4 linked regions of the Homo sapiens genome follow. The protein of the gene in region 3 purifies or fractionates together with the protein of the main gene of each other region. This does not show direct contact. Each region holds a gene or a part of one and is shown on either strand. Other genes may lie near its edges.

Evidence for each region.
Region 1: the proteins of CHD1L (region 3) and APLF purify together in Homo sapiens (affinity purification with mass spectrometry; 6 studies listed by BioGRID and IntAct, with this or other methods). This does not show direct contact.
Region 2: the proteins of CHD1L (region 3) and SUPT16H purify together in Homo sapiens (affinity purification with mass spectrometry; 3 studies listed by BioGRID and IntAct, with this or other methods). This does not show direct contact.
Region 4: the proteins of CHD1L (region 3) and RNF166 purify together in Homo sapiens (affinity purification with mass spectrometry; 3 studies listed by BioGRID and IntAct, with this or other methods). This does not show direct contact.

The regions. Positions count from the first base shown.
Region 1 is NC_000002.12:68,463,354-68,470,890, forward strand, and holds the start of APLF (aprataxin and PNK-like factor), read left to right. Parts: upstream 1-4,231; 5' UTR 4,232-4,378; coding exon 4,379-4,474; intron 4,475-7,537. Other genes in the region: FBXO48 (F-box only protein 48), read right to left, coding at 856-1,017, 1,487-1,792. UniProt on the Homo sapiens protein: Histone chaperone involved in single-strand and double-strand DNA break repair.
Region 2 is NC_000014.9:21,373,795-21,381,100, reverse strand, and holds part of SUPT16H (FACT complex subunit SPT16), read left to right. Parts: intron 1-7,306. UniProt on the Homo sapiens protein: Component of the FACT complex, a general chromatin factor that acts to reorganize nucleosomes. The FACT complex is involved in multiple processes that require DNA as a template such as mRNA elongation, DNA replication and DNA repair.
Region 3 is NC_000001.11:147,273,418-147,280,723, forward strand, and holds part of CHD1L (chromodomain-helicase-DNA-binding protein 1-like), read left to right. Parts: intron 1-1,936; coding exon 1,937-2,051; intron 2,052-2,686; coding exon 2,687-2,840; intron 2,841-6,608; coding exon 6,609-6,774; intron 6,775-7,306. UniProt on the Homo sapiens protein: ATP-dependent chromatin remodeler that mediates chromatin-remodeling following DNA damage.
Region 4 is NC_000016.10:88,703,395-88,711,116, reverse strand, and holds the start of RNF166 (E3 ubiquitin-protein ligase RNF166), read left to right. Parts: upstream 1-4,708; 5' UTR 4,709-4,791; coding exon 4,792-4,946; intron 4,947-7,535; exon of another isoform or gene 7,536-7,722. Other genes in the region: CTU2 (cytoplasmic tRNA 2-thiolation protein 2), read right to left, coding at 835-894, 1,101-1,179, 3,907-3,981, 4,519-4,586. UniProt on the Homo sapiens protein: E3 ubiquitin-protein ligase that promotes the ubiquitination of different substrates. In turn, participates in different biological processes including interferon production or autophagy.

The sequences.
Region 1 (7,537 bases), on a different chromosome or scaffold from region 3:
AAAGTTATAAACTTTAACAAAGACAAGTGTTAAGGATTCTTTAGAATAACAGTTTTCTTTTTAATATGGAGAAAACAAAAAGGAGCTGAAAGTCCTTTGTCTTGCTATCTAAGAATAGCACACTAGATGGTGCTATAAGGCTGTCAGAAAGAGAGTTTTACCAGGCTAGTGTGGCATTCTGATGGTAAAGTGTTCTGGAAACTTTCCACTTACTTTCAGCTCCTGAGAGCCGTTCCAGGTTTATATAAAATTAATGGGAATCTCAATTGGACAAACTTTAGCCCTGAGATGACATTAACTTAAAACTAAACCACAGGCTTAACACATTAAAAATAGTTTCACTATTTGACATTTCAATCTGATTCCACTGAAATAGAAATGTTAAAGTCATTAAAATGTCAATGTATTAATTTAAATGTATTGCTATTAATTTCACTTAGCTAGTCTTCCCATGAGCCTAGTTATAACCACCACTTAATGAATCTTTAAGTCAGTTTAAAGTGGCTTCCTGAAATTTTGAATTATCATTAAGCTGAACATACAAATCACTCTTACATTTAGTATTGCAAATATATTAACACAAATACATGAAACATTGTATTTGGAAATCACTCTATCAGTATATTATTTCTTATAAAAATAACATTTCATGATTTTTCCACATTACAATAAAACCAGAAAAATTTTACTAAAGTGCAAAACAAAAATAAAGCTTTACTTTTATAATAGTTCCATTTCATTTTCTTTTAAAAAGGTGAACAACAAAATGAACGAATAAAGATATCGCTTTTGCAACCTAAGAGTCATTTAAGTTTTAAACTTTCAAAGACCTGAGATTTGTGATTTTTTTTCCCCTTATCTTTCCAGTTCTGCTTCTAGAATTTCCCCCCATGTATCTGCATCCATTGGGTACATGATTTTTTCTGGTAGGCTAATGGGAGAACAAATGTTGCTGTATCTGCCACTTAGCCATTCGTGTTTCACTTTACTCTTCTGGTAATTCCTCAGCAGTATCACCTGAAAGAGGTAAATCACCGTTAAAAAAGACTGTAGTAGGTGGTTGGTTAGTGAATGTGTTTAAAGCAAGAGAAGCAGATTGACAGGGCTGAAAAAAAGAGTATTTACATTTATATATACGTACATTAATAAATGTATGTGTCTGTGTACGTGTGTGTATGTATATGTGTATTTATACTGAGTGGCATAAGGTGAAGTGGAAAGAAGGAGCTAATTCCCTTCTGGTTAACGCAGGAAAATTCCCGAATTTAGAATTTTAAAAATGCAAAAGGATAAATGAAAGATAGTGTGGAAACAGTGTGGTTAGCAGGAAAAGACTAATAACTTTAACTCATTTCCAAGAGTCAACACACTGTCTGTGTTATTCTGCATATGTAATTCTGACTCCTCCAAGCAGAAGTTAGAATTGGCGCAAACCTGCTATCATAACGCTGTCAACAACACTGCAGATCGCAAAGATTAAACTTACCCTCCAGGAATAACCACTTTCTAGATCATCATCTATTTCTCTTCGGCACACAGCTCTTACAGTCATGCAGTGAGGTTTCCATAAAGAGTCACTGTTTCTTATTGTGTCATTCCAGCTCCTGCATGTCAATGAAGCCCTGCACAGACTCCGAATGTCCAGCTGACTGAAAATTTTAAAAGTGATTTCTGCAGGCAGCAGTTCAAAAAAGTTGTTTTGACTCTCATTTTTTTCCTTCTCAGCATCCACAGAGTTCGCTTCTGTGTGAGAAACTCTTAAATTATTGTTTCTCTTGGAGTTTTTATGCATAGCTTAATGTTTTAAGTTATCCTCATATGTAACCTAAAAGGCAAAATTTAAACATGCTCAGTCTCCAAATAGGAGTATAAATCCTACTTTAAGTCAGATGCTTTTTGGGTATAATTTAAGAACTCTTTCTTGACTTTAGCTTCTCAATCTGTAAAATGGGCCAATGCTGCCGCTCTCCTGAAAGTTCTTGCAAGGATTAACAGTGATAGTGGGTAAAATATCTAGTCTTGCTACATCTGAATTGCACATGGGAGGCACCCAACATGTTAGTTTCACTCTCACCCAGGCTGGAGTGCAGATGTGTCATAATAGCTCACTGCAGCCTCAAACTCCAGCCTCAAGCGATTCTCTTGACTCAGCGTACCCCGCCCCTCTTTAAAAAAAAAAAAAAGAAAAAAAAAAAAACAGAAAACCAAAAACTGTTTTACGGAGAAATGGTTCTTGCTATGTTGTCCAGGCTGGTCTTGAACTCTTGTCCTCAAGCAATCCTTCTGCCTCAGCCTCCCAGAGTGCTGGGATGACAGGTATGAGCCACCATACCCGGTACTTTTGTACCTTTGAAAATGTATATGAGTCAATCCTATTAAACTCCTGAATACTTGTTGTACATGGGAACTGATGCCTCATCATTAATTTGCAATTTGTGACTTAATCATAAACTTGCTGGACTTCTAGTTGTTTATATAAGAATTTTATCTACTTGTATCTTATAGGTAGGTAGGTGCTTACATTTGACACAACTACTATCTGAAATGGACAAGAAGATGAGATCTGGATTATGAAACAAAGTCTCAAATATTCAACTCAGTCATAAGAGTAGTGTTTTAGAAATGGCCCCTTGAAGCTATCCTACATGCATAATTACAAGCTAAGGATAATAGTCACTGAAGACATCAAGCAACAGTGAGTGACAACTGTAAACAATGTTTAGAACTCAGCTAGGTACAGTATGTGACTCTTTGAAGCCCAGATTTAAAGCTCAGTTTCAGCTAATTTACCTAAGGTGAATGGTGTAGGCTTCCCAAATCAGTTGAAAGCATGACTGGGTACATCACCATCCTTGAGTTACTTTTGTATATAAAGACAGCTTGTATTCACTTAAAATCAGTTTATTCCATTTTGCACTTCCTTTTATAACGGGGGTTGGTTGTGCAAGAGGAGAGGTTTGAGGTAAATACTTCTTTTAACTCAGCTGAACACAAATCTCTTTTCTAGACGAGCTACTCAGCTATGTTTTCGGACTTGCCAAGACCACGGTGGCTCCCATTCATGATCCAGATTAGCTGTGGTGGCTGGAACTGCAGTCTGTGTTCAACAGAGGTCTTCTTCTTGAGGGTTAGGAGAAGTAAGAAAGCAAACGTAAAAACGGGTGAGTCAAGAGCAAGTTTTTGCCATGCACCTTGGCCCCTCCCACCACCAATACAAACCAAAGCCAAACCACAACGTTCTTGAAAAGAATCTCACATTAGGAAAACGTTACAGTGCATTTAAACGTTACAGTGTGTTTATCCACTTCTCCCAGGATCTTACTGGGAGAATAAAATGCGTCCCCTTGTGGAATTCCTGTAACGGGAATGAAGGCTTTTGAATTTCACAGCAGGGGATACCTTTGCGAGTTTCTAAAATCCCACTAGGAATCTTTCTTCTACGTCCAGGTTCGCCTGGATGCCTGGAAACGACCCCTCTTCTGCCCTTTCTCCTTTATGAACTGAGCTTTCCTGAATTCTCTCTCAAGTGAAGTAAAAGCTCGTCCCCCTTTCAACTATCATTCGGAGGGATAGATCGGCGGCAGCGCAGTCGGAGGGGCGGGGAGCCCCACTCCGTCCAAATCCCGCGGGTCAGGGCTAATCACCCCACGTCCCGTCTGAGCCACCCTCCTTGTGTCCCGCGCGGGTTGCAGCTGCTGGAACCCAAGAACACAGGGCACTGACAAGTGACAACAACCGTCAGCGTTGACTGTCACTGCGGCTCCAGGCCGCGGAGGGAAGGCTGAGCTTGCGTCCAGGCCGCGTCCCCGGGAGCGTAGACACCTAAGCCAACGGGAACGGAAGACCCTTCTACCTACTAGGCCGCGGTAGCTTCTCCTCCCGCGATTTAAATCCACCGGAATTCGAATCCTTCCCCATAGCTCTTCGCATCCCGCCCACCTGAGTCCCGCCCTGCTCAGAACTCGCGCAGGCGCCGAGAGGGGCGCGCAGTGCCTTTGGGGATTGGTAGTTTTTTCCAGGGCGTCTCCGCTCGGGAAAGGAAGTGAAGAAAGCCACCAGGACTACAAGGCCCGGCGTCCTCCAAGATGGGAGGGAGGTGAAAAGGGTGTTGGGGAATAAGCCGGGGTTTTTAAACAGTAGTTTTGAGGCGGCGAGACTGGGGAATCCCCGGTTGCGTCATTAGTAGGCGTGGAGGGGCGGGACTCGTGAAGCTGCGCTGGGGCCGGGCTCTGAGAGGACCGGCGCAGCCGCGGGGAGCCTTTGAGGCCCTCCCTCGGTGTTTTTTCCCAGGGCGTGGGCTTGCCCCGCGCGTGTCTGTGGAGGGCGGAAACAGCGGAGGGGCCAGTCTCCTGGCGAAGGGGCCTAATCCTTGCCCGCCATGTCCGGGGGCTTCGAGCTGCAGCCGCGGGACGGCGGTCCCCGGGTGGCCCTGGCGCCCGGGGAGACGGTGATCGGCCGCGGGCCGCTGCTGGGAGTAAGTGTGGGCGGGGGCTTAGCGGACCCCGAGAGCCGTGGAGTTCCGCGCCGGCTCCTGAAGACCGGCCCTAGTCCTGGCCGGTTTCCCCACCGCACTGGTCCGCCGGTCCGGATTTTAGAAGTTTGGGGCCGCACGTTTTTCAGTTACCTTTAAGCCAATTCACAAACATTTCTTTATGTTGCTTTTAAAACACTGACTGTATTACCATTATTATCTTATCCAGGGATTGGCAAACTAGTGCCTGGGGGCCAAATCCAGCCTATGTTTGTATGGCCCCATGAACTAAGAATGATTCTTAAATTCTGAAATGTAAAATGTAAACAAAAAATCTACTAATTTTTCAGGGGGAATAGTTGCTCCAAGGGTTGAGGGTATTGCGGCTTGTCTTGTAAAGCCTAAAATATTTACAGTAGTGTCTGGTCCTTTACAGAAAAGTTTGCCAAACTGTGATATTACGTCTTCTAGGCTAATTTCTTTTAACCTTTGGTCTCCTTTGCAGAGCTGTGTGGACCTTATTTATTTATATTATTTATTATTTCCAGTAAAATGAGTAGCTAACCCTTCATAAGTAATGTGTATAGCGTTCGTGTCATTGGTCTAAGGAGACATTACCTATACCAACATCTTTAACTGTCTCAAGACCGTATCAGTTAGCTATTTTTATTATCCTCATTGTTCAGATGAGAAAATTGAGCCATACATACATTATTTAAAGTCCATACATAAGCTTTTGGACACATAATGCCACAAAGCTAAATATTCTCTACCTTCTTTGGGAGAGGTTTAGGAATAAGAACATTTGCATATTGCATTCTGGAATTCTATAGATCTCTTAAGTACATCTAGTTTTCTATTTTGTTCTTTAACATTCAACATTTCTTGTTTGGTGCTCACTGTGTAGAACATTTTGCAGATTCTAGCACTGTGGGGCATACAAAGATGAATGGAACATGGGTCCCTACCCTTTAGGAGTTTTCTCTTGGGACCGGGGAGACACCTGTGTCAGTGAGCTAACACCAAGGAGTAAGGAGTGTGTACTGTTGTCCTGGTTAACTTCCAGAGTCTAAATGGAACCATTGGTACTTGCCTTAGGTCCCTTCTGGGAGCAGGGAAAGGAGTGGTAGTTTAAGATTGTATTATGGAAGCTGGTCCTAAAGGGGTGTGTGTGTGTGTGTGTGTGTGTGTGTGTGTTGTGTGTTGTGTGTTGTGTACATGCACATGTGCATGTGGTAAGGTTATTGAGGAAGTAGATATTCAATTGCTGTTCATTTTTTTACTGGACAAGTGATTATTTAAATATTTAACATCATTTCTATTTTTTTCATCGTTTGTTGGCCTATACAAACACTGGAAGGAACTGTCTGGAGGCTTTATTTTTCTTTTAAATTCGTAGGTTTGAAACTTAAGAGTATGTGCTTAATCTAGTAATCATATGTCTGGTGACTAACGAGTTTTGACTTGCTTAAGAAATTGTCACCAGTAGAGTACTGTGGGTCTGGTTAAAAGGTGGATGAATTTTAGGGCCGTGGTTTAGAAACATGGCAACAGATTGCAGACCGTTTCATTATTTGTAGCTTGTTCTTTGTGTTGTCGACTTGCTAATGTGAGATGAGCCTATTTGGTATCTGTTTTTAAAAATGGTAAGGAGTGAAAGCTGGGCAATTACCTGGTCAAGATTTTGCTTTTCCTTTTGAAATAACATTCAGGGATGAGATTCTTTTGCCAAGGTTGGCGTGTATCAGAAGTGGTTATGAATGACATCCTAAGTGTGTTAAAGGAAAAATTTGGAGAACAAACAAATCGCCTTGTAGTTTTTTCGATTTTGGAGCTGACAGATGCACTCGATTCTTCTCTGCACTGGTTAAAACACAACATAAGGGCTCCTGTTTCCAACAACAGCAATTCCAGTGAGATTTATTTTTGTATTGTGAGAGAGCGAAGACTGAGTTCTAAGTGGAAAACTCAGTAAGTTCATTGTAAATTGGAATCGGAAACGATTAATATAAATAAGGATGATTTTGAACTTTCTTAATTGGGCATGTTTTTCTGAGACAAGCTTCACAAACCTTGATGGCCACACAAACATAAAAGTTTATAATCTGACTGTGTAAAATAGTCTTGGTAGTAAAACAGTTTGACAATGAGAATGGTTTTGTATTTTTATGGTGGTAGGAAAACACAACAGAGAAACCTGTCACAGAGAACAAAGGACAATGAAATTTAATCTTTCTTGTTCCCTTTGCTTTCATGTGAGTCATCAGAGAACCCCAGGTCTTTGTTTACTAGATTTTGATTCTGCTCCATGATTGGCATCAGTTAGAAGGTTTTACAGCAGGATTAATCTTCAGAGAACTTGAGTTAAAACAGCCAATCCAAAAGATTACATATTGTGTGATTCCATTTATATAACATCATTGAAATTGCGAAATTGCAAAATTTCAAAAATGGAGAACAGATTAGTGGTTGCCAAAGGTTAAAAAATTAGGCAGCAGGGCAGAAGGGAATGGATATGGCTATAAAATAGCAACATGAGGGATATTTGTGGTGATAGAAATGTGCTTTGTCTGGACTGTGTCAGTATCAATATCTTAGGTTGATATATTGTACTATAGTTTTGTAAGACGTTACCATTAGGGGAAACTGGATAAATGGTACAAGAGATATTTCTATATTATATCTTTCAACTACATGTGAATCTACCATTATCTTAAGAAATTTAATTTAAAAGGGTTTTACAGTACGACATGTCAAGCACTGTTAGGCCAAAGTATTTGCTTTATGGGTTTTAATTAAAGCTGTTACACTCTTAAATGAAATCTACTATTTCTGATTTCAGATTTTTCTTATTTTGTTTTGACAGCAGGGATTATATGACACATTTCTTTATGATCTATTTTCCTCCTAGGAAACAAGATAGCAAAAGATATCTAGTGATACTTTCTCAATGTAGATGTAATTAAATTGACTGCTTTGATTAAAAGGAGAAGAGTCCTCAGTTGGGGGAACAGGGAAGGTCATAGGCTTCAGTATAGACTCTTCAGGTGGCATCAGTTCACCACT
Region 2 (7,306 bases), on a different chromosome or scaffold from region 3:
GGTTTGAGTCTAGATCCAGTCTTGCCTCTTATGTTTTAAGTGAGAGCTGCTAAGAGCAGAAAGGATTTGCAGCACCTTCTCTGTATTATTAGAATATCGCAGGTGGTAGTGGTGGTTCCTGGAAATGGGCTGCATGTTTCTTTGTCCTCTTATGCCTACTAGATCCTTCTTCAGGGATTGCCAGCCTTTTCATGATTACGATTATTTTTAACCAAGTAATATGATTAGTGCTGGTCATTGGGAGAAACAAAAGAGGTTATCTACCATCCCAGGGTTCCAGCTGCCTTGAGGGCTGAGTGGTACAATATCCAGGCATATCTGTATATCATTTGAGACCTACCTGTTGGGACATTCTGATATGAGTGGACCTTGACTTCATCTGCCTTTTTTCTTGAAGAATTCCATAAAATGTCAAAAATATTTGTTTTCAGAAGGAATACTCACATTCTTGTGAGCATACACCAACTGTCAGGATTGGGGTAGTGGAAGACTGACCCCAAAGAAATTTTATGCCTTTGAAGAAACTAATGAATTAAAGTGTCAGTGCTTCTCTTGAGTGGAGCTTTCTGGCTCTTTGCAGATTTTTATGGTGGCTTAGTTTCTTGTTCTGGGTTGTTCTATTAAGATTCAACAGCTATGTTCTGTGGCTCAGGAAGGATTTTAAAAAATACATAGTAGCTTATGCCTGTATAATCCCAGCTACTCCAGAGGCTGAGGTGGAAGGATTGCTTGAGTCCAGGAGTTCAAGACCAGCCTGGGCAACATAGTGAGAGAGAGCCCATTTCTTTAAAAAAAAAAAAAAAATTCAGTCTTCCATCAGTATCTGTCAGGGATTGCTTCCAGGACATACCTAGATACCTAAATCAAAGGATGCTCAAGTCTCTGATAACAAAATGGCATATTTGCATAGCCTATGTATATCCTCCCATTATTTTTTATTTCTAGATTACTTATAATACCGAATATAGTGTAAGTGCATGTAAATAATAGTTATACTTATTTTTTAGGGGGTAATGACATAGAAAAATGTTTGGCCATTTTAATTTTCAGTACACAGTTGAATCCACAGATAAGGAGAGCCAGCTGTATAGGCATTTCCTGTTATTTCAGTCAGGCAGTGGATTACTTCCACTCACACTCAGCTCTTAATAGCTCCTTTATCTCTGGAGTGGGATAGAGAAAGGTTTTTTTGTTTGTTTGTTTGTTTGTTTGTTTGTTTTTTGAGTTTCACTCTGTGGCTGAGGCTGGATTGCAATGGCACAATCACTGCTCACTGCAGCCTCAACCAAACCAGCCTCAGGTGATCTTCCCACCTCAGCCTCCTGAGTAGCTAGGACCACAGGTGCATGCCACAACACTTGACCAATTTTTATTATTATTATTATTGTTATTTATTTTATTGTATTTTTTGTGGAGACAGGGTTCCACCGTGTTGTCCCAGGCTGGTCTCAAACTCATGGGCTCAAGCGATCCGCCCACCTCGGCATCCCAAAGTGCTGAGATTGCAGGTGTAAGTCACTGCACCTGGCCAAGAAACTTTTTAATAATGCTGAGTAAGGAGGGTTAGATGGAAATAAATGCCCAGATGGATTGAGATTTTTTTTTAAATATTGCTTACTCAGCTTTTATAGTCTAGTTCTCTACTTTTTTTTTTTTTTTCTTTTTTTGAGACAGTCTGACTGTGCCACCCAGGCTGGAATGCAGTGAAGCATTCTCAGCTCACTGCAACCTCTGCCTCCCGGGATCAAGCAATTCTCGTGTCTCAGCCTCCTGAGTAGTTGAGATTACAGGTGTGTGCCACCATGCTCGGCTAATTGTTGTATTTTTCGTAGAGATGGGGTTTCACCATATTGGCCAGGCTGGTCTCTAACTCCTGGCCTCAAGCAATCCACCCACCCCAGCCTCCCAAAGTGCTGGGATTACAGATATGAGCCATCACACCCAGCCCTAGATCTCTACTTTTTATATTTACTTTTTATCCCTATTAACAACTACAGTGCCTGGCATATAGAAGTCACTCAGTGAACAGTGGTAACTGATTATATGGGTATTTAGCTACAACCAGACTGCAAAAATACTTTCTTTTTTTAAGGCAGTATCAGTTTGGTTCAAAGGAAGATAGTTGTTCTGCTGCTGCACTATTTCTCCAACTTTTATCATCCAGATACCACCTTCACAATTTTTGCAGATTCTTTGCCACCTGTTTTATATTTTATTTAACTCTCACTTTCAAAATTATTTTAATCAGTAATAGATATAGTTTTTTAAAAGTCATAGTTCTAATAAAAGCCTTAAAACAAAAAGTCACCTATCCCAGAGGCAACCACTTTGAGTTTTTTGTTTCTTTCATATTTCTAAATAATATCTATATATACTGCTATTTCTTGATTTGTGAATTTTTAACGGTTATTAACTTATGGTAAATCTGAATTTAACTTCTTTGTGTCATCACACTCATTCCAACTTCCCTACCTCCTGATACCTTAACATTTTTCTCCTGACACATTGATATGAAAAATTTTAAAGACAGAAAAGTTGAAAGAATTTTAAGTAAACCCTTTATACCCACCACCCCACACAGTTAACATTTTGTTGTACTTGCTTTATCACACATCCATCCTTCTTCATAACTTTTCCCCACAATTTTTAGTAAAATAAGTAGTTACTATTTACATTGTTTATGTTCATATAGATGTTTTCACTGCTGGGTGAAGTAATAAAGTATGATTAACTTTCCTTTTTTTCTACAGTTTTTTATTTTTCCTGGCATTAATGATTTCCTCAGTTTTTCTCCTTTAAAAAAAGTCTCCCTAGCCTTAATTTTTTCCAATAAATCTATTATAATGTTACCAGTCTTTTATTCTAAATTTCTCACACTCATAGAATTTTCTTCTGTTTCTTAAGAGCAACCTCACTCCCCACTTCCACCCCCCACATTATCCTGTTACCAGTCTTTTATTCTAAATTTCTCACACTCAGAATTTTATTCTGTTGCTTAAAAGCAACCTCACTCCCCACTTCCACCCCCCACATTATCCTGCTCCATCTGTATAGGTTACTCTTTAGGCCTGTTGAACCTCGGGACTTTGCAATATTGGGTCCCCTATATCCAAGAGCCTCTGCTTTGTTTTTTCTTTAGCACATTTTCTCTAAGAACTTCGTAAGAAAAGATGGGCCAGGCGCAGTGGTTCATTCACGCCTGTAATATCAGCATTTTGGGAGGCCGAGGTGGGCAGATCACTTAAGGCCAGGAGCTCAAGACTACCCTGGCCGACATGGCGAAACCCCATCTCTACTAAAAATACAGAAATTAACCAGGCATGGTGCCACATTCCTGTAATGCCAGCTACTTAGGAGGCTGAGGCACGAGAATCGCTTGAACCCAGGAGGCAGAGGCCACAGTGAGCTGAGATCGTGCCATTGCACTCCAACCTGGGCAACAGAGTGAGACTGTGTCTCAAAAAAAGAATAAATAAAAAGCTCACCACTAGCTCCACTGTAACCCCATGCAAAAAAAAAAAAAAGGATGCATAGAATATAAATGTCTTCAGCCCTTGCATGTCTTAAAGTGCTAGTTTGCCCTCACTTTTGGTTAATAATATAGTTAACCAAAGTCAACTCTATTGGCTTTGTTAATGCAGTAGGTATAAAATTCTGTGTTGAAAATCATTTTTTGCTCAGAATTTTGAAGCCATTATTTGGCGTCAAAGACTTCAGTGTTACTTTTGAGAAGGCTGATATGATTCTATTTCCAGTATACATACATAGCCTGTTCTCTCTGAAATTTAGAATCATCCCTTCTGTTTTGAAATTGCACAGCAATGTGCTTTGATATGTCTCTTTTGGGGAAATCCTTTTAGTCTCAAGCTCATATTCTTCAGTCCTAGGATGGTGCATTATTTGATCATTTTGGTCCCTGCATTTCCTTAGTGATGTCTTTTGTTTCTGAAATTCCTATTCAGTAAGGTTTAGACCTCTTTGGTTAAATCTGTTCATTGTTGATCTTTTTTTTTTTTTTTTTTTTCTTTTTCTTTCTTTGAGACAGTCTCACTGTCGCCCAGGCTGGAGTGCAGTGATGCAATCTCGGCTTACTGCAACCTCCCAGGTTCAAGAGATTCTCCTGCCTCAGCCTCCCGAGTAGCTGGGATTACAGGTGCCTACTACCATGCCTGGCTAATCCAGGTCTTCAAATGGCTAGTTATCTTGCTACTGAAATATGTATTCAAGTGCTTTTACTTAGCCAACCATCATAAATTCACTGCACACAGAAGTGCTTTATTTATAACTTCTTATTTCTTTACATAGAATATTAAAAGACAAATGCAAGGGTTTGGGATTTTATAATGGTAATCATTTTTACTTCATCAAGGACTTTTACGTGAAACTGGCCTTTTTTCCTGAGTGTGTAGTAATGGAGAAGTAGTTTGGCGCCACTACCTTGACTCATACAAAGGGACTAGCAGTTTTAAGTGCCATTACTATTTCACTATTGGTGAGAACTAATGGTAAAACTTTTTACCAACCTGAAGGAAAACATTTCTTACTGAAAATCAATGAGAAAAGGCATATAATTTCTATGTAGTGACTTCTTTGCATAATATATTTTGTTGTGGTAGAGAAATACAACAGAACACTCAGTTGCTATCATATATCCTTATTAACAAGCAGAAGCCTTAAAAATGTGGAAGAGTCTTATGTATGCATTTATCTTGACTTTATAGGGGAAGTCAGAATTATAGCTCAGAATGACCAGTGTTTTGGCTTTATAGAGCTATTGAAGAGTATCTGATGGTTGGAGAACTCACACATCTTGATTTCAAAACTTACTACAACGCTGTAGTAATCAAAACATCACGGTACTGGCCTAAGGATAGGCATATAGAAGAGTGGAATAAACGTGAAAATTCAGAAATAAATCCTCACATTTATGGTCATTTAATTTTTGACAGGGATGTCAAGATAATTCAATGAGAAATGAATAGTCTTTTCAACAAATGGTGTTGTAATAACTAGATATTCAATGTAAAAGAATGAAGTTGGGTTAGTCCTCAGACCATACAAAAAAATTAATTGAAAATGAATCATAGACCTAACTGTGACAGCTAAAGCTATGAAACCCTTGTAGAAGAAGTATAAAGTAAATCTGAGTGACCTTGAATTAGGCAGAACCTTCTTAGATATGACACCAAAAGCACAAGAAAATAGATAGGCCAGGCACAGTGGCTCACACCTGTGATCCTAGCATTTTGGGAGGCCAAGGCAGGAGGATCACTTGAGGTCAGGAGTTCAAGACCAGCCTGGCCAACATGGCAAAACCTAGTCTCTGCTAAAAATACAAAAATTAGCCAGGCATGGGGCAGTTGCCTGGAGTCCCAACTACTTGGGATGCTGAAGCACGAGAATTGCTTGAACCCAGGAGACGGAGGTTGCAGTGAGCCGAGATCGTGCCACTGCACTCCAGCCTGGGGGATAGAGTGAGACTCTGTCTCCAAAATAAAAAAGAAAATAGATAAATTGTACCACTTCAAAATTAGAAACTTTGGTGCTTCAAAGGACACTATCAAGAAAGTGAAAATAAAATGCACAGAATGGGAGAAAATGTCTGCAGATCCTGTGTCTAGAATATGAAAACTCTTACAGCTCAATAATAAAGCAACAACTCAGCTACAAAATGGCAGAGGATCTGAACAGGCATTTCTCCAAGAGGCATACAGTTGTCAGTAAACATATGAAATGATGCTCAGCGTCATTAGCTATCAGAGAAATGAAATCAAAACTACAGTGAGGGCCGGGCGTGGTGGCTCATGCCTGTAATCCCAGCACTTCAGGAGGCCAAGTGGGGGCGGATCACTTGAGGTCAGGAGTTCAAGACCAGCCTGGCCAACATGGTGAAACCTCGTCTCTACTAAGAAATATAAAAATTAGCTGGGCGTGGTGGTGCATACCTGAAGTCCCGCTACTTGGGAGGCTGAGGCACAAGAATCGCTTGAACCTAGGAGGCGGAGGTTGCAGTGAGCCAAGTTTGCACCACTGCACTCCAGCCTGGGTGATAGAGCGAGACTCTGTCTCAAAAGAAAAAAAAAAGCAGGATACTAATTTACACTCATTATATGGCTGTCATCAAAACGACATAAAAACTGTTGGTTAACGTGGAAAAATTGGAACCTTGATACATTCTTAGGAATGTGAAATAGTGACTAGTGCAGTCATGGTGACAAACAGTCTGATGATTCCTCGAAAAGTTACCATATGACCCAGCAGTTCATCTCCTAGGTATATGTATACCCAAGAGAAATGTCCATACAAAACATATTCAAATGTTCATGGCAACATTTTTTACAATAGCCAGAAAGTGAAAACCCAAGTGTCCTGCAGCTGATGAATGGATAGATAAAATGTGGTATATCTACACAATGAAATATTCAGCAGTAAAAGGGAATGAAGTGTTGATACGTGTCACAACACAGATGAGCCTTGAAAACAAGTGAAAGAAGCCAGACACAAAGGCCACATTTTATTTGATTCCATGTATATGAATTGTCCAGAATAGACAAATCCATAGAGACAGGTTAGTGGTTTGTCTAGGGCTGAGATGGAGATAGGGGAGTTGGGGAATGATTGTACTCAAGGACATAGAGATTAAAATGTTCCAAAATTGTGATGGTTGCATAATTCTGCTAAAAATCATTACATTGTATGCTTTTGAATTTTATGTGAATTCTGTCTCAATAAAACTTTTTTAAAAAATAAAGAACTCCCGTCTCTCCATCAGCCAGAAAGGACATTGGTATTGAGGTTGACAAAACCTACAAGGACAAAAACTACCATGGCTTCCAGTGCTTTCATGAAACCTCAGATATGTGGCCTTCTGGCCAGGCATCTGTGATTTCATGTTGTTGAAGTGTTCATTTTGCCCTGGGGTTACATCTCTCTATTAAAATTTCTGTGGCTGAACCAAAAAAGAAGGCATATGTAGATTTCTGCATAAATTATGACTCCTTGAAAGATTCTAAGATGAAGGTGGCTTATCTTTGAGAGTGCAAGATGATTTTGGAATATAAAAAATTAGTTTGGCCCAGGCATGGTGGCTTATGCCTGTAATTCCAGCACTTTGGGAGACCGAAGCAGGTGGATCACCTGAAGTTAGGAGTTCGAGACCAGCCTGACCCACATAGTGAAACCCTGTCTCTACTGAAAATAAAAAAATTAGCCAGGTGTGGTGGTGGGCACCTGTAATCCTAGCTACTGGGGAGGCTGAGGCAGGAGAATTGCTTGAACCCAGGAGGCGGAGGTTGCAGTGAGCCGA
Region 3 (7,306 bases):
AATTTTTGATTATAAGGAGATTATTTCACCTGTGTTTGTTTTATCTCCCTAATAAAATTAATAACATAAGATTCATTTGGCCTCACTCTTCCAAGATCATAGACTGCACATGGAGTCTCAGCCATTTTCTCATGTGATCAGTTGCCTCAGGGTTAGTCTCAGGAGAAACTGAAAGAATCAGGCAGTGCATCATCACTGCCGGGAAAACAGTTTTATTTATGCTTTAATGATTTCATCATCCTCATATTCAGAGAGCAGCATTATGTTTGAAATGTCTAAAATTAGGAAAAAAGAGATCTCTGCTTTTCAGTTAATCTCCTTGGAGGACTCAGAGTAGATCTGGGAGCTGAAGCAGTCCTGGACATTAGTCTTCTCCAAACACTGTTGTGTTTGCTGTCACAGTTTTGTTGTAGTTTTGCAGTATTTTCATTTATTTAACAGGTTTCCTTCCAAATTTCAAATATTTCTGTGATGAGTCATGTTGCCACCAGATGGCAGTGATAGCTCATGAATATGTTCCTATTCATGGATGTGGGTGTGGCTTATTTATAAAAATCTCACCCCTCGGTGAAGAGCTGCACTTAGACAACATGAATTCAAGAAGATAATTTTATGGAACACATTTTAAAATGAAATAAGCACCTGAAAAGTATTATAGTATAGTGGATAAAAGCACGGGCTCTGGACCAAGACTGCAAGGGAATGAATCCTGGCTCTTTCACCTTCTAGGCTTGCAACTTCAGAGAAGTCCCTTACCCTCCCTTTCAACATCTATAAAGTGGGGAAAATCGTAGCAACTACTCAACTTCCCGACAGGGTTGTTGTGAGGGTTAAAGGAGTTAATATAGAGAGAGTGCTTAGAATAATGCCTGGCAAGTAGTAAGCACAGCGTAAGTGTCATTATCATTATTATTAGGTATAATTTAGCATCTCTCAGTAATCGGTCATGATTACCTCCTTGTTCCAACTTCAACTTGATACGAAGACTTTAATTAGAATATTCCTGCCTGATTTGTCTGGAGATCCAGCTTATGGTCAGTAGTCCTTCTTAAAAGTTAGTCCTTAATTCAGGTTTATGGAACAAGCCCTTTCAGGCTTGCTTGTTTCAGCAACCAGCTCTAACGACCCTGGCAAGAGGGAGTCTGTTTTGTACTTGTTTTCACATTAATCAAAGAGAAGGCTGCAATGTACCTTCACGGTTCTCTTAATTAATTCCTGTAACTCAAGGTACCTCCTCAGCTCTCTTCCTGCAGCACTGAAGAAAGACCAGCAAGAGTGTTCTGAGCAAGCCTCAGAACACTCAGAGTAAATGACAAGAGTGTTCTTGTCTTGCCGTTGGTTTTGTTACTTTCTTTTTGATTAATGTGGAAACCAGTACAAAAAAGACTCACTGGAGTTTTCTCTAATCAGAGGGAGGAGGTTTCCCACTCTGCTCAGGAGTATAATATCATCCACTCTTCTCATTAACTTTTTATCAGAGATCTTGCTACCTAGTTGTAACTTGCAAGCGACATTCGGCACTCTTCTCTTGACAGTGCGCACTGCAGACCTCTCATATTTAGATCTGTTTTCTGAAAGAGCATGTGTCCTTTTCCTCAGACTACTCTAATCAAAATCTAATCAAGGTTTTTAAGCAGAAGAGATAAAGTGGCTCCATGGCACTGACTTAAGTATCCACCTTGGCCACTTGCCCCTGCTCCGCTCATTCTGTTCCATTCAGTAATAAAAATTTTCCCATCAGGCAATAAGAGGTCAGGTAGCACTTCTCACCGCTGGAACAAGGCTTTGGAGTTAGGGGTGTGGGTCCATTTGAAGGATGAAGCCAATTGTTTTGACTGATTTCAGTTTATCAGTCTGACCCACTCTAGCCTTGTGCTTATTTTCTAGCTCCTCGTCTTTGTGCTGCTGATTACATTCCTTTTTGCATTGTTTTCAGGTGGAGTTGGCATGAACTTAACAGCAGCAGATACTGTGATTTTTGTTGACAGTGACTTTAATCCTCAGAATGACTTGCAAGCAGCTGCCAGGGCTCATCGCATTGGCCAAAACAAGTAAGTGATTTTTTTCTGCTTCCTTGGCTTGCCCAGCAGCAGTTCTGGGTTGTGAAAAAGGTGAAGAATATAGTCCTGGTGACAGTCCCACACTGGGAGCTGAGAGACCACCAGGTTTTAGCTCATCTGTGCTATTGACTCCTAGGGTAGTATTGGGTGGGTCACATTATCAGTCCAGACTGACTTTATTAGAAGGAGTCAAATCAAACTGTGAAAGGATTAGAAGGAAACTTTAGAAGTCATTTAACTCATCCTTCTTGAGTTAGGGTCTGACTCAGTTAAAAAATGGGGTTATGGGGCTATGGAGCTAAGCTAAAAAAAAAAAAAAGAAAGATAGATGTTGCCCTTTGATCTGAGGATAATTTGATCTTCCAGATATTTTCCTTGGCTACAGATAAGGAATCCCAGTCATGGTTACCCCATCATTCTTTCTTTGACTGTCTGGAATGGTTCAGAGAGAATTTCAGGCGAGTTCTCTCTAACAAGTGCTCAGGACCAAATGAACCAATCTCCCTTTCATTGTACCCTGAATATGGTATTTGGTTTTGTTTGCTTTTAGATGTATTTACCTTGCATACTTTTGCCCAGCTTTGCACACCCTTATAGCACACTACCCTTGTTTGACTTATGTCCAGGTCTGTTAAAGTTATTCGGCTGATTGGTCGAGACACTGTGGAAGAAATAGTCTATAGGAAAGCAGCCTCCAAACTGCAGCTCACCAACATGATCATAGAAGGAGGCCATTTTACTCTGGGAGCCCAGAAACCCGCTGCCGATGCTGACCTCCAGGTATGATATGATATACTGTTCTTCACTTTGGAATATACCAATACCCTTTGTGGAGGAGAATGTAAATGAAAAGAACCAGCACTCACCCTCTCCCCAGCTACACATTTGTTCCTTGGCCTCCCTCACACCTGCCACAGTGCTGGCTGTGTGCAGGGTCTGTAGGAAGTAAGGATTAGTTCCAAGCCTCATCACTTCTTGGCTGTTTGGGTTTGAGCGGCTTTCTTAACTTCTTAGATCTACTCTTTTTGCATTTCTAAAAATAAAGACACCACAGGTTAGCTCAGAGGGCTGTTAAGAGAATTAGTTAAAATAAAGAACTCAATAACAATTAATTCTGTACTTCCACCTTAGTCCCAGAGCCTTTGATCAGTGACTTACATTACTTCATACTCAGAAGAGGGCGAATGAGATCAGGAATTCATAATTGTGCCTTAGAAAAAATGGGTGAAAGAACTAGAGGTAATTTATTTAAAGAAGGGAGTACTGGATGGGAGACAGACACTGGATTGGAAGATTTTAGAGCTCTCTTTTGGAAGAGGACTTAGAGTTACTCTGTAGCAGCCCTTGGGTTAAAATTAAAACTCATAATATTTCCTGGATGCTTTGTTTTTGCCCTAAGGATGAGGGGCTGGATGCAAAGAGACCAACTCCTAGGATACTAGAAAGATGCAGGTATGAAGGGAGTAATAAATGTCTGTCAAGGGCAGCATCAGTGGGAGAGTCTGGTGTGAGAAACATTGCAAAAGAAGGAAGGACAGGAGTTGGCTACTGTTTAGAGTTGGGTCTCAACAGTAGGGAGATAGAAAATTCAAAGATGGCTGTGAGGTTTTAGGCCCCTATGATGAGGAGAGAAGAAAGGAAAATAAGAAGTAGGGCAGAGTTTTAGGAAGATAAAGAGAATTTAGGCTTTAGTCAGAGTGTGCAGTAAAAATACAATATAAACAAACTATTGTTAGAGGCAGACTCAGACAAAAGGAAAGAATTTTATTTGTAAAAGTTTGCAAGATGGACTAGGATTGGAAAGGACTAGTCCATCAAAAAACATAAGTGTTTAAGAGAGAAAAAGTGACACAATATTAGAAGCAGAGTTACTAAGTTTGTAATTAGTCTGAAAAAACAGCAGTTTTCTTACATGGTTACCGTATCTGCAAAGGCCAGTGCATATCTTTACATATCAGTGTTGCAAAAGACAGGGATCCTGTTGTTTTTGTTAGGGAGTTAGTAATTACAGGAAAGGCTCAAGGTTTTATTAATTTTGGGACTAGAACTAGAAAGAGTAACACTGGGTTTGTTCTTTGTTTATCTTAGGGGGTAGGTGTGGCTTTTTTCTTTTTCTGACTTTCCTTGTGTTGCTGACTGTGTCACATGCATGCTTAATTAACCATAATGGTGCTAGGGCAGGCTGTACATTTTGTTTTCACACTAAGAGACAATTATAAATGTGAGATGAAAGCTTGAGAGAGAGGTAGAGGTACGCTGTAGATACCCTTAAATGCAGTTTTCCACAGAAAAATTATCCATAGAACCTTAAGAGAGAGAAGGTCACTGCTGGGCATAGTGAAGGGGTAAATGACAGAGCCTCACAAGGCCCGCATTCTCTTGTTAGAGGAGGAAGGATGTCATAGGTTGTTTGCACTCTCCCAGTGGAGGGAGCGCCAGGGGTCCAATGAGGGGTATCTTGTGATGTGGGCTGCTGGACACATCACTGTGAAAGATGTAGACATACCTCCACCCCATGGGGCCACAAACGAGTGGGAACATGGACTGCTGGCTGAGAGCGACTCTGTTGGACTTCTTGCCCAGCTCATGGTTATCGGAAAGTTACTTTCTGACTCTAATGTCTGATTTATCTCTTCCCCATGCAGATGCTATGAGTTATTTGTGGTTACCAAAAGCAAAGGTGATAACCCAGAGCCCTTGTCTAAAAAGAAAGCAGGGGATTTTTGTTTGTTTTTGTTTTTTGGGTTTTTTTTTTTTTTTTTTTTTGAGACAGAGTCTCGTTCTGTTGCCAGGCTGGAGTGCAGTGGCGCGATCTCAGCTCACTGCAACCTCTGCCTCCCGGGTTCAAGCAATTCTCCTGCCTCAGCCTCCTGAGTAGCTGGGACTACAGGCGCGCACCACCACGCCTAGCTAATTTTTGCATTTTTAGTAGAGACGGGGTTTCACCATGTTGGCCAGACTGGTCTTGATCTCCTGACCTTGTGATCCGTCCACCTCGGCCTCCTAAAGTGCTGGGATTACAGGCATGAGCCACTGCGCCTGGGGGTATTTTTTTTTTTTTAAATACCAAGAAACCAAAAGTAAAAGATGTGGTTCTGATTTGGTAAATCTAAGCAGTAGGTATGGAGTTCTGAAGTCCTGAAAGAAGGAAACAGGTTTTTTATCCTGCAGGGAGGACACAGTAGAAACAGGCAGGCAGATGCAGGTGTAGTGAACACTTATTGGATACTGTGTGCTGAGTGTTGTCTGAGGTGCTCTTTTCCAGTTGTTTCAGTAAATAAGAATAACAGCAGGATGAGATAGACACTATCTTTATCCCCATCTTAAGTAATTTGCCCAAGGTTATTCAGATTTAGGATTCCAATCCAAGCACTCTCTAACCTCCGAGCACATGCCCTTAATTACTGTAATATACAGCTTCTCATAAAAACACATGTAATTTTCTTAATGACTAAGACACATTGCAAGTGAGCAATAACAAGGGAGAGCCAGGAGGTGAGCATAAGTACAAGGGGGTGAAAGGGAGGGTCCCAGTATGGACCAATTCTTATCATAAATAGTTGGCTTCCTACTATTTTTGGTACCAGCTGCCAAAGCCAGTCATCCTGGTTATGTGTATGGAGGGTAAATATAATATATCTAGGTACATTCATGCTTAAGTGAGCTGTCTATTGTTTCTTCAAGCTGTTACAGAATACCTTAACATTTCCAAGTTACTCACAAAATAGACGATCTGGAGATAACCCAGTCTAAAAGGGCAAGATGAGAACAAGGGCCCAAGGTTTGAATCCACCTTGGGTCAGGATCTCAGAATTAGTGCTTACGGAGGTGCAAAGTTGGAAGTAGCAAGTGAAAGCCAGGAAAAATTATCTGTGCTTTCTGCATGGTTCCTACAGCCATAGGGAATAGGCTGAGAGTACTCCAGAGAGGGACGAGAGAAGAGAAGCAGGATAGTGCAATGCCAGAGGAACATCCAGAAAAATTCAAACTGAGAAAAGGCCTTCGGGTCTGGTGGTCAGAAGTTGTTACTGATCTTTGCCAAGGTGGTTTCGATAGACCACTGTGTTAGGAAAACAAATTGCCAAAGAAAAGGAGTCAGTTCATGATAGAGGTAAAGTTCCTAGTGTAGCCTTCCCTTTCTAAGGAGTCTGGCAGTGGAGAGGTTGGAAAGTAGCTAACAGGGTCTCTGATCTCAAGTGGCTGCTGGGAATGCTTATGAAAAAGTCAGTGAGAGGTGCTGTAGAAAATGCAGGAAGTTACTATTATTCTTCAAAAAAATTGGAGGCTTATACATTTTTTTTGTTTTGTTTTTATGCAGAATTGTCAAAGTCAATACCTCTGATAATCATTTATCACCTCTCTGCTTACCCATCATCCAACTATTAAATGGCCCTGGCTGTTACTATCTATGATGGGGAGAGCAGAAAGGCTGCCTGTTCATTAGAGAAGGACTGTGCCTGGTGTCGTTAATCCACTTAGCCAATCACTGATATCCTAATGTTTCTTTTCATGAGAATTTGCTGGACTTTTTTGTTTCCTCTATTCAAGTTGAGTGAGATACTCAAATTTGGTTTGGATAAACTGCTGGCCTCTGAGGGGAGCACCATGGATGAAATAGACCTGGAGTCCATCCTGGGAGAAACAAAAGATGGCCAGTGGGTCTCTGATGCCTTGCCTGCAGCAGAAGGAGGGAGCAGAGATCAAGAGGAAGGAAGTAAGTTGGAGGTTAGAGCAGAGCAAATGGCACAACCACCCCAAGCTAGAGCTCACGTCCCCATGGAAAGTTTTGGATGCTGCTCTCTGGGGCATCTTTTTTCTCCCTTACCCTATTGTCATTTGGGCACACTGTTTAAGACTTGCTTGATAAAAGAACGTTACCCAAACTAACTGGAAATTTGTGTGGCTCTTCCCTTGTAGCTGAACTGTGAACCAAAATCATAGTATTAATGTTTATGATAGTATCAATCTTAAGGCTTTGAATTTGTACCTTTTCTCCCTTGGTTGCAAACATCTTCTTCTTTATTAGTAAAGCCTACCATCCTTGGTATGATGCTTTGCACATAGCGATTCCTCTTCTAAACAGTAGAATTACTTGTTTTTAAAATTGCAGCTAACATTAAGCATTTATTTTGCGTTCATCAACAGTGCGGACTTTGTCATGTGCTTTTTCCATTTAATTTCTGTAATCCATGAGATGTAGGAGATGGTTTTGTCTTTCTCTTAATTTTCTTTCCTGAATTTGGTCA
Region 4 (7,722 bases), on a different chromosome or scaffold from region 3:
GCCATGCGCCCATCCTGAGACCAACACCCCACTCCTCAACCCGGCAAAGCCGACCCCTCTCCTCTCAACCACCCAGCCCACAGAAACAGCCTCCTCCGGTCTGCACCTCTCATGAGAGTGCAGAGAAACCAAGCACATCCCGCTCCTGTGCCCTCCTGAGAAGCCCGACCTGCCTCAGACTTCCTGAGCTGACCCTTGACAGGCCACGGGCACAGCCCCACCACCCCCAGCCGAGCCCTGTGTGCAGCCTAAGCCCGCCTCCACCTCCCTGCGCGGGCCGCCGCCTCCACCTCAAACGCTGCTCCCTTTGCTTCTCCTGGCAAACCCCCGCCCCTTTCCCAATCTTCCCTCGGGTCACACATGGCTGAGCCAAGATGCAGCTTTCCACTGACTGTGTTTCTACGCAGGTTGAGCAAATGGACAGAAGTCAAGTGGGCCGCACACACGCACTCTGGACCCAGCTTCTGATTGGTGCACCTGCTGTAAACACATCTGAGAGTGGGCCGCACACACGCACTGTGGACCCAGCTTCTGATTTGTGCACCTGCTGTAAACACATCTGAGAGTGGGCCGCACACACGCGCTGTGGACCCAGCTTCTGATTTGTGCACCTGCTGTAAACACATCTGAGAGTGGGCCGCACACACACACTGTGGACTCAGCTCCTGATTGGTGCACCTGTTGTGAACACATCTGAGAACCCCCCAAGTGTCCAGGCCGCAGGGTGGACTGCTCTCTAGCCCCAACCAAGAGCCCCTCAGCAGGCTGAGAAGGGAGGCCCCCAGCCTGAAGCTCAGCCCAGCAGCCCGGGCCCACGGGGTGGTGAACACGCACCTCAAGAACCTGCCAGACCATGGAGCTGGACGAAGGCCCCCCAGACCACGCCAAGAGCACCTGGGGGAGAAAAAACATCACTCAGGGCACCGCACCTCCAACACAGGCAGACACCCCACCTCGTGGACATCTAGGACATCGAGTCTGTCCTCAAAGGCCAAGGAGGAGCTGGCGGGCTGCAGCAGGCCAGGCTGCCTGTGGGAGGGACAAGCAGGGACCTCGAGGGGCCAGGCTGCTCAGTCAGACCCCCAGGACCCAGACGCTACCTTCTCGCCTGGAAAGATGAGCCGGTTCTTGCCCAGCATGGCTCTGAACTTGTGGACGTAGAAGGCCTTGAAACAGTCCCTGCAACACAGACCTGAGATGAGGGAACCGCCTGCTACCCGCACAGTGAGCAGCGTCCTGAGGCGCTGCCAGGTGACGACGTCCTTTGCCAATCTCCATCTTTAAAAGCAGCATCTTCACATCCAGGCTCTGTCCAGAGACTGGTGAAAGGGGCGGGGTTGGCCCCTCTGGCAGTGGCTTCCTCAGGGTGAACACGAGGCTCACCGGCCCCTCCCACGACCAGGTACAAACTGCACAGCCACGGAGGCTGCATCCAGCAAACGAGGGCAGAGCCCCGGCACCCCTCCCCACAGGCGCTCAGAAGGGCCCAGCTGGTGGAGTGGACAGACTTAGGCACGTACAGGGCAAGGCCAACCCAGACCCCATAAAAAAAGACCCACCACATACAGACACCACCTCTTGGAGGTGAAACGTGGAAATGGAGCGGGCCACAGCGAGGACCCACCATGCAGAGACACCACCTCTTTGGGGTGAAGTGCGGAAATGGGGTGGGCCACAGCGAGGGCTCAGTATCCTGGGGCCCCAGAGCTGGCATCTTTAGTGTGCTGGGCTCAACTGGGCCAGGAATGGCTAAGAGGCTCACTCACAGAGTGGCCTGGGCTCCTCCCCTAACCCCACAGAATCAGAACTTCCAGGCCTGGGAACTGCATTTTTAAGAGACAGGGTCTCGATGTGTCACCCAGGTTGGAGTGCAGTGCCACAGTTATAGCTCACTGCAGCCTCAAACTCCTCGATTCATGTGATCCTTCTGCCTCAGCCACCCAGGTAGATAGGACTACAGGTTACAGATATATGCCACCATGCCTAGCTAATTGTTGTATTTTTTGTAGAGACAAGGTCTCACTTTGTTGCCCAGACTGGTCTCAAACTCCTGGCCTTAAGTGACCCTCCTGCCTGGGCCTCCCAGAGTGCTGAGATTCCAGGTATGAGCCACTGCGCCCAGCTGTAATCTTTGTTCATAATAAACTTTCCAGCCATCTGACTCTGGCTCACTACGTCAGGGGTTCTTGGCCCTGGCTGTATGTTAGAATTGCACAAACCAATTAAGTCAAATTGTCTAGGGGTGAGGCCTAGGAGTCTGCATTTTAAAGCTCTCCTGCAATCCTGGCAGGCAGGGTGAAGAGCAGCACCCGGTACAGAGCGGACAATGCCACTGCAAGAGTCACCCTGCACCTGGGGCTCTAAGTCTCTTCCTTCCTGTCAGACACACTTGATGTGCACAGCAGTCCCTCCCTACGTTGAATGGATACCACGTACAAGAGGCCGAATGACCCCCCTGTGGTTCCTTTACAGACAGTAAAGCAAGTCTGTGTTTAACAGCAAGATGCCAGGTGAGGGACTGCAGGTAACTGGCAAGTATCAAGGCTGGGACATGGGAAGTGACCCCCAGGACCCAGCTTTGGGCGTGGGGAGTCTCATACAAGGAGACACAGGTGCTGGGCTTCACCTCCGCACTGTGGACCAGGAGAGCCTCTGCGCCCTACACCACCAGCTGGGATTCAAGCGTGGTGGGTCCACGTGTACATGCTGCGTCTGGGCTCCTGAAACCACGCTGTCCCCTGTGGGTCAGGGAAGGCCAAGGTTTCTCCCACGTGCTGACCTGAATGATCCCTGGGGATCCCAGCTCGATGTAGATTCCTAAGGCCTTCCCCTAGAGAGCCGGCTCCCCACTGTTCCTTGGGACCAGCAAGCACAGCAAAAGCCCTTCTGGCCACAAGGGCCTAGCATACAGCCACAGCAGCCTCTCCTCAGTGAATTCTGCCGGCAGCCTGGTGTTCTTGGCAATTTCAGATGCTCCTGGGTGGTTAAAGAAGTACCTATCTTGGCCAGGTGTGGTGGCTCATGCCTGTAATCCCAGCACTTTGGGAGGCCGAGGCAGGTGGATCACTTGAGGTCAGGAGTTCGAAACCAGCCTGGCCAACATGGTGAAACCCTGTCTCTACTAAAAATACAAAAACAATTGGCCGGGCATGATGGCAGGCACCTGTAATCCCAGCTACTCAGGAGGCTGAGGCAGGAGAATCACTTGAACCCAGGAGGTAAAGGTTGCAGTGAGCTGGGATCATGCACTCCAGCTGTTGCACTCCAGCCTGGGTGACAGAGGGAGACTCCATCTCAAAAAAAACAACAACAACAACAAAAAAACCACGCACCACCACTGGGAATTAAGAGGGCTAAAAGGAGAGAGACCTGGTCCTCCCTTCAGGGAGCTATGAGTCTAGTGGAAACAACTGAACAATACAATGGCTACAAGCCAAGAAAGACATGACAAGCGCCTGGGGGAAAGCTAGAGGTCTTCCAAGCCTCTATCCTGCCACAGATGAAACAAGCATCTCACACGAGATTAAAAACTTTCACCCAGACCATCTGCCAAGTTCCCAAGATGCTCTGATCCGCCCCTAGATGTATTCCAGCTGCCCCCAAACGCCTGGTCCTCCTACAGCTTATCCCAGTCTAGACACCACGGCCCCACTTCCAACTGTCCCCATAAGTTCCATCAGAAACCTCATCAGGGGATCTGTGGCTAGCTCATGGGAAACTTTCCCAAGCAGGAAACCAATGCTTTCGCCTCCACTTCAACACCAGGGGCACGAGGGACCCCATCAGGAGCAGGAATAAAGTAAGTACATGTTTTTAAAAAGAATTAACAAAGCATCACAAGTTGCGGCTATCCTGTCTGCTAGCGAGGCCATGTTTGCCAGGGTCTCAGCCACCTCCAGGCCTCACCTGCAGAAGGCATCTCCGGCTCGTATCACCACAACGGGCTGCGCTTCCTTGCACTTCACACACTTCTGCTCACGGCTTTGGAGATGGGAGGGGGGAGAAGAGAGAAACACAGATCACATCTTCCCCACGCCTAGTGGGCTTTGGGGAGACAGCTCCTGTTTCTCACCCTGAGTTGGGTCAGAGAAAGGCACCTCGGTACACACACAAACCCAGGCTTGTGTTCTGTCCAAACTTCAAGAAAAACAAAGGCTCTGGGGGGATGTTTAGCCTAGAAAAGCCGGCTCAGGGGGCACATAAAGGCCGCTTTTCAGTCTCCCAAGGCTGACACGGGGAGGCGAGACAGCTTCACGGCACCAGTTCTCTCCGAATAAGGACAGCACTGTCAGCGGCAGAGCCGTCCCCAGTGGCTGCTAGGATGAGAGGCGCGAGCCAGTGGAGTAAGTCCCCTTCTAGGTGGCCGTCACCGCTTGACAGGCATTCCCCGAGTGCTAGGGAGCGAGGTCCCGCTCTCCACGCGGGGCTTCCCGGAGCAAGCCCGGCCGGGACCCTTCGGGGCAGGAGTGCGGCGGGAAGGCGAGGGGCGGCCTGGCGGGTCCGGCCGCCAGCTCTTACCTGGGCCGCGGCGCCGGGGGCGGCTCCTCAGGCGCCGGCTCCCCGTAGTCCTCGCCCACCTGACACATGGGCACGCCGGGTCCCGTCGCAGACTGTGGCGGCGACAGCGCGAGGGCGCGCCCCGATGACGTCGGAGTGGCGCCGTGACGGCCGCGAAGCCCGGCTGGGGGCGGCGCCCTACGATGACGTCAGCGCGGCGCAGTAGCGGCTGTGACTAGCGGGCCGGCCCGGGCCAGGACAGCGGGCGGCGGGCGGCGCGGGCCTGGCCCCGGGATGGCTATGTTCCGCAGCCTGGTGGCCTCGGCTCAGCAGCGGCAGCCGCCGGCCGGGCCGGCGGGCGGCGACAGCGGCCTGGAGGCGCAGTACACCTGCCCCATCTGCCTGGAGGTCTATCACCGGCCCGTGGCCATCGGCAGCTGCGGCCACACGTGAGCGCGCCCGCCCAGGGGCCGCGGGGAGGGGGCCGTGCCCCGCCGCGGGAGGGGTCGCGAGGCCGGCGGCCGCCCCGGTGCAGCTCCGGACTGGGCGCGCGGGGACTCGGGGCGCCGGGGCCTCGGGGCGCGTGGGGTCCGGGTTTCCCTGTGCCGCGCCGCCTCTGCCCTCTGGGCGCGTTCATCCCCCGCCCAGCCTCCTTCGCGCCAGCCGCAGGCGCCCGGTCCGACTGCTGCTTCGGTTCACCGGGCGACCTGCGGCCCTGCCCAAGCTCGGGGTCCCCGGCGGCTGCGGCGGGCGCTCCGGTACTCAGAGGGCAGCAGGTGCCACCGCTCCGCCAGTGGTGGTGGATTTGGGCTTGTGCGGCTGGAATGGGCAGTTGTAAATAAATAACTTGTAGTTTTTGCTATCAACTCTTGTTCGGACCCGCTGTCTGCCTGTTTTGACTACAGAGGAAAGGAGTTCCCTAAAGTTTAGAGGGGCTTGTTTGGAGTCTGATGTTCTTAGTTTTGTTTGAAGGAGAACTTGAGTCACACCGATCACTGAGTAGCCAGGCAGGCTGGTCCACAGAGGAGCAGACACTGACCACCTTGCTGGGGTTTCCAGCTGCACCAGGGCTCACAGCCGGCTCCTCCAGGGTGTTTCAGGAACAGAAACTGGAGGACGTGGCTCTCCTGGCGGGGAGCTGTGCTCAAGTATTCTGGAGCTGCCAGCCCCGTTGGGAGGAAGCCTAGATCAGTGTCTGCTCCCTCCTAAGTGCTGAATAATACAGCTCTTGAGCAAAATCAGCAGTGGCAGGGGAGAGAGAGAGCAGGAGGGCTTCCCCGCAGACATCCAAGCTGCTGAGGTGGTGGAGTGGAGGGGGGTGCACCCAGACTGGTAGGAGGCTCTAGAACATTTTGCAAGCAAAGTCAGCTGACTTCAGGGGCTCCTGGTACAGAGGGAGCTGGGACTGCTAGGTGGATGTGTGCTGGTCACCCACGGAGGTGGCAGGGCCAGTGTCAGGATGCAGAGCTGCCTTCATTACCTGTGTCAGGCAGCACAGGCGCCTGCCCACGCTGGGACAGCTCTACCTACTTCTCTTGTGAGGCTGCTACAGGCTCTGCCCCTGCTCCTCCATCTCACTTAGCCGTGACATTTTGGGGGGGCAGCCTCTGAACGGGAATATTTTTTTTTGAGACAGAGTCTTGCTCTTGTCACCCAGCCTGGAGTGCAGTGGCGCCATCTCGGCTCACCGCAACCTCCATCTCCTGGGTTCAAGTGATCCTCCTGCCTCAGCCTCCAGAGTAGCTGGGATTACAGGCACCCGCCACCACGCCCGGCTAATTGCTGTATTTTTAGTAGACAAGGGGTTTCACCATGTTGGCCAGGCTGGTCTCGAACTCCTGACCTCCGGTGACCTGCCCGTCTCAGCCTCCCAAAGTGCTGGGATGACAGGCGTGAGCCACCGCGCCTGGCAGGACTTCCTTCTTGTGAGCAGGTAGCGGGTGTTTGAAGGTGTGTTCCGCACCTTCTCATCTGTTACTGAGCGCTGTGAGGCTTGACTTAGGCCTTGTTTTAGAAAAGCCTCCCGTAGGCTTTGGGTGCCAACACCTTCACCGTGTGGTCGGCCACAGCATCTCCACTTTCCTAACCTGCACAAATTGGTCTTTGCCCTTCTTTTTCAAATATGTCTTTTCCTAAAATGTAGTTTCCATAACACAGAATGCAGAACCACATGGAATTGTGGAGCATCTTTCCTATAAAACTCCCCTCTGCCATGCTTTTCTTGGTAGAATGACGACCATCCTAGTCTCACCGCGGGTCCTGCAAGAGCTTTTCACACAGCCTTTGCCTTTCAAAGATTTTTCTCCCCGACTTTTCCTGCTGGCTTTTGTTTTCTGGCTGTTCTCTCTCTGCTTCTAACTTTGTTTCTTGTTGGTGTTGCTAAGGCATGCATGCAAATGACCACAGAAAGTTTAAAGGCTCTTCAGGTTCCCTTCGGAAGTTTGTTGCTGGTCTGGTTCTGTCCCCTCCGCAAGCTCCCCAACCAGAGCAACTTCCTCCTCCAGGGTAGATCTCTCATGGCAAGAGTATCCCAGTGTGGGGGCATGCACCCTGCTCTAGCCCTCGCGCAGGAGGCCCCCTGGGGGCCCAGCAGGAGCTGTTCTCAGCCAGGGGACAGTCTGAGCAGTGAGCCACCTCTGTAACCAGAAGCCTGTGGGCCAGGACACGCGTGATCACGAACCTGCCTGGAAGGGCTGTGTGAGCAGCCTCCACTCGTGCAGGACAGCTGTGGGGCTTGCTGAGGGTGCTGGCCTGCCAGCCAGGCAGATCCCTGAGGCACGGGCCGTCCCAGCTTCTCAGCTTGTGCAGCGGCCAGTGTGGGAGACACATTGGCAGTCCCGGGTGCCTGCTGGGAGGGCCAGTGCGCGATCGCCCCTCCCTTTGTAAGGCTGTCGACGCCCCCACACCCATCGCCCTCAGCCACTTCCTTCAGCTGAGAAGCTGCTCAGCACCAGCCCCTGGGTGGGCGCAGACAGGAACTTCCTGTGGGGGAAGCGGGCACTACTCCCGGCTGCTGGCTCTCTGAACACCAGGCTGGCAGTCACTGGAAACTAGGCCGATAGAGCACCCACCCTGTGGGTGCCTCGTTCTGCCTCCTGCTCCTCGGGCCCAGCCGCCCTGCCAGTCGGGCTGGGTTCCCTCTTGTGTCTTTCCTGAGTCCTTCCGGGGAGGACGAGGCTGTCTTCCTCCCAGCCAACCTTCTGGGCACCTTTCCTCTCTTCCCAA